Linked DNA regions of Homo sapiens. Each later gene encodes a partner of the first gene's protein in a complex. Each region holds a gene or a part of one and is shown in the gene's direction. Other genes may lie near its edges.

Region 1 (7,498 bases):
CTAAAGCAAAAAAAGAAGATGGCTATGTCGGTGAAGCTCTATGGAACTGGGGATCAGGAGGCCTGGCAGAAAGGAGTCCTGTTTGCTTCTGGGCAGAACTTGGCATGATGGAGACGCCAGCCAGCGAGATGATGCCAACCAGATTTGCCGAAATTATTGAGAAGAATCTCAAAAGCGCTAGTAGTAAACCGAGTTTCATATCAGACCCAGGTCTTGGATTGAGGAACAGGCAATGGGATCATTCCTCAGTGTGGCCAAAGGATCTGACGAGCCCTCAGTCTTCTTGGAAATTCACTACATAGGCAGCCCCAATGCAGACAAACCACCCCTTGTTTGTTGGGAAAGGAATTACCTTTGACAGTGGTGGTATCTCCATCAAGGCTTCTGCAAATATGGACCTCATGAGGGCCGACATGGGAGGAGCTACAACTATATGCTCAGCCATTGTGTCTGCTGCAAATCTCAGTTTGCCCATTAATATTATAGGTCTGGCCCCTCTGTGAAAACATGCCCAGCGGCAAGGCCAACAAGCTGGGGGATGTTGTTAGAGCCAGGAACAGGAAGACCATCCAGGTTGGTAACACTGATGCTGAGGGGAGGCTCATACTGGCTGATGCGCTCTGTTACGTGCACACATTTAACCCGAAGGTCATCCTCAATGCCACCACCTTAACAGGTGTCATAGATGTAGCTTTGGGGTCAGGTGCCACTGGGGTCTTTACCAATTCATCCTGGCTCTGGAACAAGCTCTTCGAGGCCAGCATTGAAACAGGGGACCGTGTCTGGAGGATGCCTCTCTTCAAACATTGTACAAGACAGGTTGTAGATTGCCAGCTGGCTGATGTTAACAACATTGGAAAATATAGATCTGCGGGAGCATGTACATCTGCGGCATTCCTGAAAGAATTCGTGACTCATCCTAAGTGGGCACATTTAGACATAGCAGGTGTGATGACCAACAAAGATGAGGTTCCCTATCTATGGAAAGGCATGACCGGGAGGCCCACAAGGACTCTCATAGAGTTCTTACTTCGTTTCAGTCAAGACAATGCTTAGTTCAGATACTCAAAAATGTCTTCACTCTATCTTAAATTGGACAGTTGAAGTTAAAAGGTTTTTGAATGAATGGATGAAAATATTTTAAAGGAGGCAATTTATATTTAAAAATGTAGAACACAATGAAATTTTTATGCCTTGATTTTTTTTTCATTTTACACAAAGATTTATATATTTTTTTTTTGAGACGGAGTCTCACTCTGTCACCCAGGCTGGAGTGCAGGTGGCATGATCTCAGCTCACTGCAACCTCCGCCTCCTAGGTTCAAGCGATTCTCCCACCTCAGCCACCTGAATACCTGGGACTACAGGTGCCCACCACCATGCCCGGCTGATTTTTGTATTTTTAATGGAGACGGGGTTTCACCATATTGGCCAGGCTGGTCTCAAAACTCCTGACCCTGTGATCTGCCCGCCTCGGCCTCCCAAAGTGCTGGGATTACAGGCGTAAGCCACCACGCCCGGCCAGTATATATTTTTAATTGAGAAGCAAAATTGTACTTCAGATTTGTGATGCTAGGAACATGAGCAAACTGAAAATTACTAACCACTTGTCAGAAACAATAAATCCAACTTTTTGTGCAAAAAAAAAAATACAAATATTAGCTGGGCATGGTGGTGCATGCCTGTAATCCCAGCTACTCGGGAGGCTGAGGCAGAATTGCTTGAACCTGGGAGGCGGAGACTGCAGTGAGCTGAGATTGTGCCACTGCTGACTTTGTCTCAAAAAACAAAACAAAACAAAAAAACAAAATGAAAACAAAAAGCCAGGGCTGCCTCTGCTCAATAATGTTCTATCTTTGTTCCGCCTCTTCTCTGGGGTCTCACTTCTTGGGAGCCTGTGTGAAGGTGAATTCCTCTGAAAGCTGACTGCCCCTATTTGGGACTCCCCAGTCTCTTTCTGAGAAATGGTGACATTGTTCCCAGCACTTCCTCTCCCTTCCTAGGCAGCTTCTGCAGCCACCACTGAGCCTTCCTCACATCCTCCTTCTTCAGGCTTGGGCTTTCCACCTTTCACCATTCCCCTACCCCATGCTGCTCCACCGCACTCTGGGGAGGGGGCTGGACTGGGCACTCTTGTCCCCCAGGCTGAGCCTCCCTCCATCCCTATGCTGCCTGCTTCCCAGGAACATGCTTGGGCAGCAGGCTGTGGCTCTGATTGGCTTTCTGGCCGTCAGGAACATGTCCCAACATGTTGAGCTCTGGCATAGAAGAGGCTGGTGGCTATTTTGTCCTTGGGCTGCCTGTTTTCAGGTGAGGAAGGGGATGGTAGGAGACAGGAGACCTCTAAAGACCCCAGGTAAACCTTAGCCTGTTACTCTGAACAGGGTATGTGATCTGCCAGCAGATCCTTGCGACAGGGCTGGGATCTGATGCATGTGTGCTTGTGTGAGTGTGTGCTGGGAGTCAGATTCTGTGTGTGACTTTTAACAGCCTGCTCCCTTGCCTTTTTCAGGGCAGAAGTCCTCCCTTAGAGTGTGTCTGGGTACACATTCAAGTGCATGGTTGCAAACTTTTTTTTTTAAAGCACTGAATAGTACTAGACACTTAGTAGGTACTTAAGAAATATTGAATGTCGTGGTGGTGGTGAGCTAGAAGTTATAAAAAAAATTCTTTCCCAAAAACAACAACAAAAAGAATTATTTCATTGTGAAGCTCAGTACCACAAAAATTTAAATAATTCATTACAAGCCTTTATTAAAAAAAATTTTCTCCCCAAAGTAAACAGACAGACAATGTCTAGTCTATTTGAAATGCCTGAAAGCAGAGGGGCTTCAAGGCAGTGGGAGAAGGTGCCTGTCCTCTGCTGGACATTTGACAACCAGCCCTTTGGATGGTTTGGATGTATAGGAGCGAAGGTGCAGACAGCAGTGGGGCTTAGAGTGGGGTCCTGAGGCTGTGCCGTGGCCTTTCTGGGGTTTAGCCACAATCCTGGCCTGACTCCAGGGCGAGGCAGGCCAAGGGGGTCTGCTACTGTGTCCTCCCACCCCTACCTGGGCTCCCATCCCCACAGCAGAGGAGAAAGAAGCCTGTCCTCCCCGAGGTCAGCTGCGTTAGAGGAAGAAGACTGGGCATGTCTGGGCAGAGATTTCCAGACTCTGAGCAGCCTGAGATGTCAGTAATTGTAGCTGCTCCAAGCCTGGGTTCTGTTTTTTAGTGGGATTTCTGTTCAGATGAACAATCCATCCTCTGCAATTTTTTAAAAGCAAAACTGCAAATGTTTCAGGCACAGAAAGGAGGCAAAGGTGAAGTCCAGGGGAGGTCAGGGGTGTGAGGTAGATGGGAGCGGATAGACACATCACTCATTTCTGTGTCTGTCAGAAGAACCAGTAGACACTTCCAGAATTGTCCTTTATTTATGTCATCTCCATAAACCATCTGCAAATGAGGGTTATTTGGCATTTTTGTCATTTTGGAGCCACAGAAATAAAGGATGACAAGCAGAGAGCCCCGGGCAGGAGGCAAAAGTCCTGTGTTCCAACTATAGTCATTTCTTTGCTGCATGATCTGAGTTAGGTCACCAGACTTCTCTGAGCCCCAGTTTCCCCAGCAGTGTATACGGGCTATGTGGGGAGTATTCAGGAGACAGACAACTCACTCGTCAAATCCTCCCCTTCCTGGCCAACAAAGCTGCTGCAACCACAGGGATTTCTTCTGTTCAGGTGAGTGTAGGGTGTAGGGAGATTGGTTCAATGTCCAATTCTTCTGTTTCCCTGGAGATCAGGTTGCCCTTTTTTGGTAGTCTCTCCAATTCCCTCCTTCCCGGAAGCATGTGACAATCAACAACTTTGTATACTTAAGTTCAGTGGACCTCAATTTCCTCATCTGTGAAATAAACGGGACTGAAAAATCATTCTGGCCTCAAGATGCTTTGTTGGGGTGTCTAGGTGCTCCAGGTGCTTCTGGGAGAGGTGACCTAGTGAGGGATCAGTGGGAATAGAGGTGATATTGTGGGGCTTTTCTGGAAATTGCAGAGAGGTGCATCGTTTTTATAATTTATGAATTTTTATGTATTAATGTCATCCTCCTGATCTTTTCAGCTGCATTGGGTAAATCCTTGCCTGCCAGAGTGGGTCAGCGGTGAGCCAGAAAGGGGGCTCATTCTAACAGTGCTGTGTCCTCCTGGAGAGTGCCAACTCATTCTCCAAGTAAAAAAAGCCAGATTTGTGGCTCACTTCGTGGGGAAATGTGTCCAGCGCACCAACGCAGGCGAGGGACTGGGGGAGGAGGGAAGTGCCCTCCTGCAGCACGCGAGGTTCCGGGACCGGCTGGCCTGCTGGAACTCGGCCAGGCTCAGCTGGCTCGGCGCTGGGCAGCCAGGAGCCTGGGCCCCGGGGAGGGCGGTCCCGGGCGGCGCGGTGGGCCGAGCGCGGGTCCCGCCTCCTTGAGGCGGGCCCGGGCGGGGCGGTTGTATATCAGGGCCGCGCTGAGCTGCGCCAGCTGAGGTGTGAGCAGCTGCCGAAGTCAGTTCCTTGTGGAGCCGGAGCTGGGCGCGGATTCGCCGAGGCACCGAGGCACTCAGAGGAGGTGAGAGAGCGGCGGCAGACAACAGGGGACCCCGGGCCGGCGGCCCAGAGCCGAGCCAAGCGTGCCCGCGTGTGTCCCTGCGTGTCCGCGAGGATGCGTGTTCGCGGGTGTGTGCTGCGTTCACAGGTGTTTCTGCGGCAGGTGAATGACGGGCGTGGGTCGGTGCGCGCTCGGCTTGCGCACACGGTGTCTCTAAGTGCGCGGGTGACGAGAGTCGGGATGTGCCGGAGACCCCGGGGCGGAGAGCGGGATTACAAGTACAGGAATCCCTGGTCACGCTCCCCGCCCCTGGAAACCCAGCTGGGGCGAGGGAGGGCGTGGACGGGACCGTTCTGGGAGCTCGCCTTTGGCTGCGGTTGGCTCCAGGCCCCAGGCGCAGTTTGCTCGCGGCGTGGGGATGAAGTCCGTGTCCCTGGAGGGGCCCAGGAAGGGCGAGGAAAGCGGAGTGGAGTAAGTTCGTCTAGGATCGGTCCCGGGTGGCTCTGGGATCCAATCTGCGCCGCCCTGGCCCAGGTCCCAGGTTCAGGTCCTTTACGCCACTGTGTCCACCACCTGGCTGAGCGCTGAGGTCAGCGCGGGCTGTTTCCTGGCCCTTGGGAATGTGCCAGGACCCGTCCCCTAAGGACTAGCGAGGAGGTGACTCACTGTGACAAGGAGACCCCAGGGAACGGACTGTATGAGGTCAGAACCCCGCCCGGGATGGGGTACAGCGGGACTCCAGAAGCCCTCTCCCCTGCCCCTTCGCGGTCTCCGTCCTCCCATCGGCACAGTGACCTATTTGGCTGGAACAGTTTGTTCCCAAGGAAGCCGGGCACTGGAGGTCCGGGACACCGCGTCGGGTCCCCGCTCCGCGGCGCGCTGTAGGGGTCGGGGAGTCACGGCCCTGCTCTGGGCGGGCTCTAACCAGCCTGTCAGTCGGGGAAGGGCAAGGGTCTCCTCTACCTCTTTCCCACCGCGGCCGGGAGAATCGCGGCCCAGCCTGTCCTCGGGTCGGGGCGCTGGACTCCGGGGCGGGAGCGGAGCCCACGCCTGGATGGGAGGCGGGGAGGGTTCATGTCTTTGAGGGGTGGGGGGTCTGGGGGGCACGACGCTGCTCAGGGCCTCTATCAGCTGCCTCGGGGGCTCAGGGCTTCCCGACCTAGCCCAGATTCCCTCTCCGAAAGCTACAGGGCTGAGCGGAGCAGGGGGGCGAGTCGCCCCCTGGGGCGCCGCCGCCTGGCGCGGACCACAGCGCGTCCTCTCCGTCCCAAACCCCTGGGGGACACTTGCGCCCTCTTCGTGAGGAAAAGCATCTTGGAGCTGGGTTAGGAACTTGGGGCGCCCAGGCAGCTTCCCCTCTCCTTGCCTCCCTCCACGTCGCGTTTCTGGGAGGACTTGCGAGCGGTTTTGTTTTCGTTGCTCCCGTCTATTTTTATTTTCCAGGGATCTGACTCATCCCGTGCTTTGGGCGTGGAGATAAGGTGGAGGGGCCGGCTCCCGGCGCGCGCGCGCGTGCGTGTCTGCGCGGGCGTGTGTGTGTGTGTGTGTGTGTGTGTGTGTGTGTGTGTCTGTGTCAGAGACGGCACAAGAGCGCGCGGTTTCCCAACAGCGGCGGGAGTTTCGGAAGCCTGGCCGGCTCAGCGTGACGTGTTCGCGGCCCCCCGGTCCCCTCCCATTCTCCCCCTCCCCACCCCAGGGTGACGCGCAGCCGGAGTGGAAGCAGTTTTGGCGGGCGAGCAGCGCCTTGCAGGAAACTGACTCATCACTACTCCCTCCAGCGGTCCGAGGCTCTGCCCACGCACCTCCCACTCCGCGCGTGATTTCCTGGAGGCCGGCGCCCCCTCCCGGCCCTGGCGGGAATAGCACACAGGCTTTCCCGCGGAGTGGGGCTGGCCGGCGCGAACCGCCGCGGCTACTCCTGGGCTCATCCGAGATCAACCCCTATGCCATTACCACCCCTTCAAAGGAGCACTCCTTAGGTTCAACAGTATTCACTGAGCTCTTACTGGAAATTAAAATATGGCTGAAGTCTAAGGCAGGAAGGCCAATAAAGGAGGCTATTTTTAATTGTTTCTAAAACAAGGGTTTGCGTTTCTGAGTTTTCTTTGGGCTGAAAGTTATTATGAGCATGAGAGCAGATTTTGATGGGGGAGGAGAGGCCTATGAGAGCCATAAGAGAAGGAGGGGTGGTAGAAGAGGAGAGGGTGCCTGCCTAGATCCTAGTCCTGTCTTGAACTCCCGAGAGCCAGGGAATATCCAGCACCTTGATGAAGCCCTAGGCGGGCGCCTCCTCCTTGTGCCTATGATGTATTGAGACCCAGAATGTCCATTTCAAACATACCAGTGTGTCTCCGCTTGGCTGGCAACCCAAGAGTGCCCATCTGAGGAATTGTGCCAAACACTTGCTTGAATCTTCAATCTGGATTAAGTTGGTCTCGGGAGGCAGGGCCTCAGCAATCTATATTTTGAAAAAACTCCCTAGGTGCTTTTCTTTCTTTCTTTTTTTCTTTCTTTCTTTCTTTCTTTCTTTCTTTCTTTCTTTCTTTCTTTCTTTCTTTTTCTTTCTTTCTTTCTTTTTCTTTCTTTTCTTTCTTTCTTTCTTTCTTTCTTTCTTTCTTTCTTTCTTTCTTCCTTTCTCTTTCTCTCTTTCTTTCTCTTTCTCTCTTTCTTTCTTTTCTTTCGACAGAGTTGCACTCTGTCACCCAGGCTGGAGTGCAATGGCACCATCCTGGACTCAAGTAGTCCTCCTGTTTCAGCCTCCCAAGTAACCGGGACCACAGGCGTGATCCCCCCGCCCCCATGCCCAGATTTTTTTTTTTTTTTTTTTTTTTTTGAGATGCGGTCTCGCTCTGTCACCCAGGCTGGAGTGCAGTGGCGTGATCTCGGCTCACTGCAAGCTCCGCCTCCCGGGTTCACGCCATTCTCCTGCCTCAGCC
Region 2 (4,103 bases), on another chromosome or scaffold:
TAAGGACCCCCTCTTCCCACCTCTCCCCACCCTCTCTCTCTCAGGACTGCCTCCGGGCCTGCCAGGAGCAGATCGAAGCCCTGCTGGAGTCAAGCCTGCGCCAGGCCCAGCAGAACATGGACCCCAAGGCCGCCGAGGAGGAGGAAGAGGAGGAGGAGGAGGTGGACCTGGCTTGCACACCCACCGACGTGCGGGACGTGGACATCTGAGGGCGCCAGGCAGGCGGGCGCCACCGCCACCCGCAGCGAGGGCGGAGCCGGCCCCAGGTGCTCCCCTGACAGTCCCTCCTCTCCGGAGCATTTTGATACCAGAAGGGAAAGCTTCATTCTCCTTGTTGTTGGTTGTTTTTTCCTTTGCTCTTTCCCCCTTCCATCTCTGACTTAAGCAAAAGAAAAAGATTACCCAAAAACTGTCTTTAAAAGAGAGAGAGAGAAAAAAAAAATAGTATTTGCATAACCCTGAGCGGTGGGGGAGGAGGGTTGTGCTACAGATGATAGAGGATTTTATACCCCAATAATCAACTCGTTTTTATATTAATGTACTTGTTTCTCTGTTGTAAGAATAGGCATTAACACAAAGGAGGCGTCTCGGGAGAGGATTAGGTTCCATCCTTTACGTGTTTAAAAAAAAGCATAAAAACATTTTAAAAACATAGAAAAATTCAGCAAACCATTTTTAAAGTAGAAGAGGGTTTTAGGTAGAAAAACATATTCTTGTGCTTTTCCTGATAAAGCACAGCTGTAGTGGGGTTCTAGGCATCTCTGTACTTTGCTTGCTCATATGCATGTAGTCACTTTATAAGTCATTGTATGTTATTATATTCCGTAGGTAGATGTGTAACCTCTTCACCTTATTCATGGCTGAAGTCACCTCTTGGTTACAGTAGCGTAGCGTGCCCGTGTGCATGTCCTTTGCGCCTGTGACCACCACCCCAACAAACCATCCAGTGACAAACCATCCAGTGGAGGTTTGTCGGGCACCAGCCAGCGTAGCAGGGTCGGGAAAGGCCACCTGTCCCACTCCTACGATACGCTACTATAAAGAGAAGACGAAATAGTGACATAATATATTCTATTTTTATACTCTTCCTATTTTTGTAGTGACCTGTTTATGAGATGCTGGTTTTCTACCCAACGGCCCTGCAGCCAGCTCACGTCCAGGTTCAACCCACAGCTACTTGGTTTGTGTTCTTCTTCATATTCTAAAACCATTCCATTTCCAAGCACTTTCAGTCCAATAGGTGTAGGAAATAGCGCTGTTTTTGTTGTGTGTGCAGGGAGGGCAGTTTTCTAATGGAATGGTTTGGGAATATCCATGTACTTGTTTGCAAGCAGGACTTTGAGGCAAGTGTGGGCCACTGTGGTGGCAGTGGAGGTGGGGTGTTTGGGAGGCTGCGTGCCAGTCAAGAAGAAAAAGGTTTGCATTCTCACATTGCCAGGATGATAAGTTCCTTTCCTTTTCTTTAAAGAAGTTGAAGTTTAGGAATCCTTTGGTGCCAACTGGTGTTTGAAAGTAGGGACCTCAGAGGTTTACCTAGAGAACAGGTGGTTTTTAAGGGTTATCTTAGATGTTTCACACCGGAAGGTTTTTAAACACTAAAATATATAATTTATAGTTAAGGCTAAAAAGTATATTTATTGCAGAGGATGTTCATAAGGCCAGTATGATTTATAAATGCAATCTCCCCTTGATTTAAACACACAGATACACACACACACACACACACACACAAACCTTCTGCCTTTGATGTTACAGATTTAATACAGTTTATTTTTAAAGATAGATCCTTTTATAGGTGAGAAAAAAACAATCTGGAAGAAAAAAACCACACAAAGACATTGATTCAGCCTGTTTGGCGTTTCCCAGAGTCATCTGATTGGACAGGCATGGGTGCAAGGAAAATTAGGGTACTCAACCTAAGTTCGGTTCCGATGAATTCTTATCCCCTGCCCCTTCCTTTAAAAAACTTAGTGACAAAATAGACAATTTGCACATCTTGGCTATGTAATTCTTGTAATTTTTATTTAGGAAGTGTTGAAGGGAGGTGGCAAGAGTGTGGAGGCTGACGTGTGAGGGAGGACAGGCGGGAGGAGGTGTGAGGAGGAGGCTCCCGAGGGGAAGGGGCGGTGCCCACACCGGGGACAGGCCGCAGCTCCATTTTCTTATTGCGCTGCTACCGTTGACTTCCAGGCACGGTTTGGAAATATTCACATCGCTTCTGTGTATCTCTTTCACATTGTTTGCTGCTATTGGAGGATCAGTTTTTTGTTTTACAATGTCATATACTGCCATGTACTAGTTTTAGTTTTCTCTTAGAACATTGTATTACAGATGCCTTTTTTGTAGTTTTTTTTTTTTTTATGTGATCAATTTTGACTTAATGTGATTACTGCTCTATTCCAAAAAGGTTGCTGTTTCACAATACCTCATGCTTCACTTAGCCATGGTGGACCCAGCGGGCAGGTTCTGCCTGCTTTGGCGGGCAGACACGCGGGCGCGATCCCACACAGGCTGGCGGGGGCCGGCCCCGAGGCCGCGTGCGTGAGAACCGCGCCGGTGTCCCCAGAGACCAGGCTGTGTCCCTCTTCTCTTCCCTGCGCCTGTGATGCTGGGCACTTCATCTGATCGGGGGCGTAGCATCATAGTAGTTTTTACAGCTGTGTTATTCTTTGCGTGTAGCTATGGAAGTTGCATAATTATTATTATTATTATTATAACAAGTGTGTCTTACGTGCCACCACGGCGTTGTACCTGTAGGACTCTCATTCGGGATGATTGGAATAGCTTCTGGAATTTGTTCAAGTTTTGGGTATGTTTAATCTGTTATGTACTAGTGTTCTGTTTGTTATTGTTTTGTTAATTACACCATAATGCTAATTTAAAGAGACTCCAAATCTCAATGAAGCCAGCTCACAGTGCTGTGTGCCCCGGTCACCTAGCAAGCTGCCGAACCAAAAGAATTTGCACCCCGCTGCGGGCCCACGTGGTTGGGGCCCTGCCCTGGCAGGGTCATCCTGTGCTCGGAGGCCATCTCGGGCACAGGCCCACCCCGCCCCACCCCTCCAGAACACGGCTCACGCTTACCTCAACCATCCTGGCTGCGGCGTCTGTCTGAACCACGCGGGGGCCTTGAGGGACGCTTTGTCTGTCGTGATGGGGCAAGGGCACAAGTCCTGGATGTTGTGTGTATCGAGAGGCCAAAGGCTGGTGGCAAGTGCACGGGGCACAGCGGAGTCTGTCCTGTGACGCGCAAGTCTGAGGGTCTGGGCGGCGGGCGGCTGGGTCTGTGCATTTCTGGTTGCACCGCGGCGCTTCCCAGCACCAACATGTAACCGGCATGTTTCCAGCAGAAGACAAAAAGACAAACATGAAAGTCTAGAAATAAAACTGGTAAAACCCCAGCGTGGTGCCTGCCTCTTTGCTTCCTGGGCTGGCCGTGAGCCAGGGACGCGTGTCCTGGTGCCCTAGAACCAGGGCAGGGTGGCAGGCTTGGCGGATGTGGGAGGCCGCAGCCTGTCCTGTGCGCTGTGGGAAGTTCAGCAGCATCCTGACCTCCATCCCCGGGATGACAGTCACGCCACCCGCCGTGACAACCAAGAATGTCTCCTGACACTGCCACATCCCCGGGGGTGGGGACAGAATCCAGCCAGGAGCAGGCACACCCCTCCCAACTGGGAGGAAGCCCTCAGCACAGGTGTGTGAGGTGGGAGGCGGTGTCCTGTCCCCGGGAGGCTCCAGAGAATAATTTGCAGGCTGCCTGGCTGGGTGAGCCCACCTCCAACCACGCGAGACAACAGCTCCGGCCTGGGTGACGTGAGCGGTGCCCATTGATGGGGAACATCTTCCCCCTCTTCCTTGCCCCACCAGTTTGTCTTCCCGGGTTATTTGCAGATAGGAAAATAAATAAAGCCGGCATTCGTTAACCCTCTTCTGGCGCAAACTGCTGTTTGCTCTGGATGAATCATGGTCCTTTGGCGACGCCAGGCTCCGGGAGAGCAAAGCACCGTGTCAGGGCCATGATCCGGGGTGGCCTTTCACTGGGATCGTGGGGACCTGGAGGCCGCCTTATAGGACACCCATGACGCCCACCTCTGGATTTCAGG

The links.
Region 2: the proteins of CDKN1A (region 1) and CCND1 are in contact, whole or in part, in a crystal structure (PDB 6P8H), measured with the Homo sapiens proteins. Residues at the interface, in NP_000380.1 of Homo sapiens: Ser15, Lys16, Ala17, Cys18, Arg19, Arg20, Leu21, Phe22, Gly23, Pro24, Val25, Ser27, Gln29, Leu30, Asp33, Cys34, Asp35, Leu37, Met38, Cys41; in NP_444284.1 of Homo sapiens: Met56, Ile59, Thr62, Trp63, Glu66, Val67, Glu70, Glu92, Lys95, Lys96, Ser97, Arg98, Leu99, Gln100, Leu101, Ile126, Tyr127, Thr128, Asp129, Ser131, Arg133, Glu136, Gln139, Met140, Leu142, Leu143, Asn146, Lys147.

Annotation. Positions count from the first base shown.
Region 1 is NC_000006.12:36,674,216-36,681,713, forward strand, and holds the start of CDKN1A (cyclin-dependent kinase inhibitor 1), read left to right. Parts: upstream 1-4,498; 5' UTR 4,499-4,583; exon of another isoform or gene 4,584-4,724; intron 4,725-6,258; exon of another isoform or gene 6,259-6,644; intron 6,645-7,498. UniProt on the Homo sapiens protein: Plays an important role in controlling cell cycle progression and DNA damage-induced G2 arrest. Involved in p53/TP53 mediated inhibition of cellular proliferation in response to DNA damage.
Region 2 is NC_000011.10:69,651,074-69,655,176, forward strand, and holds the end of CCND1 (G1/S-specific cyclin-D1), read left to right. Parts: intron 1-44; coding exon 45-209; 3' UTR 210-3,401; downstream 3,402-4,103. UniProt on the Homo sapiens protein: Regulatory component of the cyclin D1-CDK4 (DC) complex that phosphorylates and inhibits members of the retinoblastoma (RB) protein family including RB1 and regulates the cell-cycle during G(1)/S transition.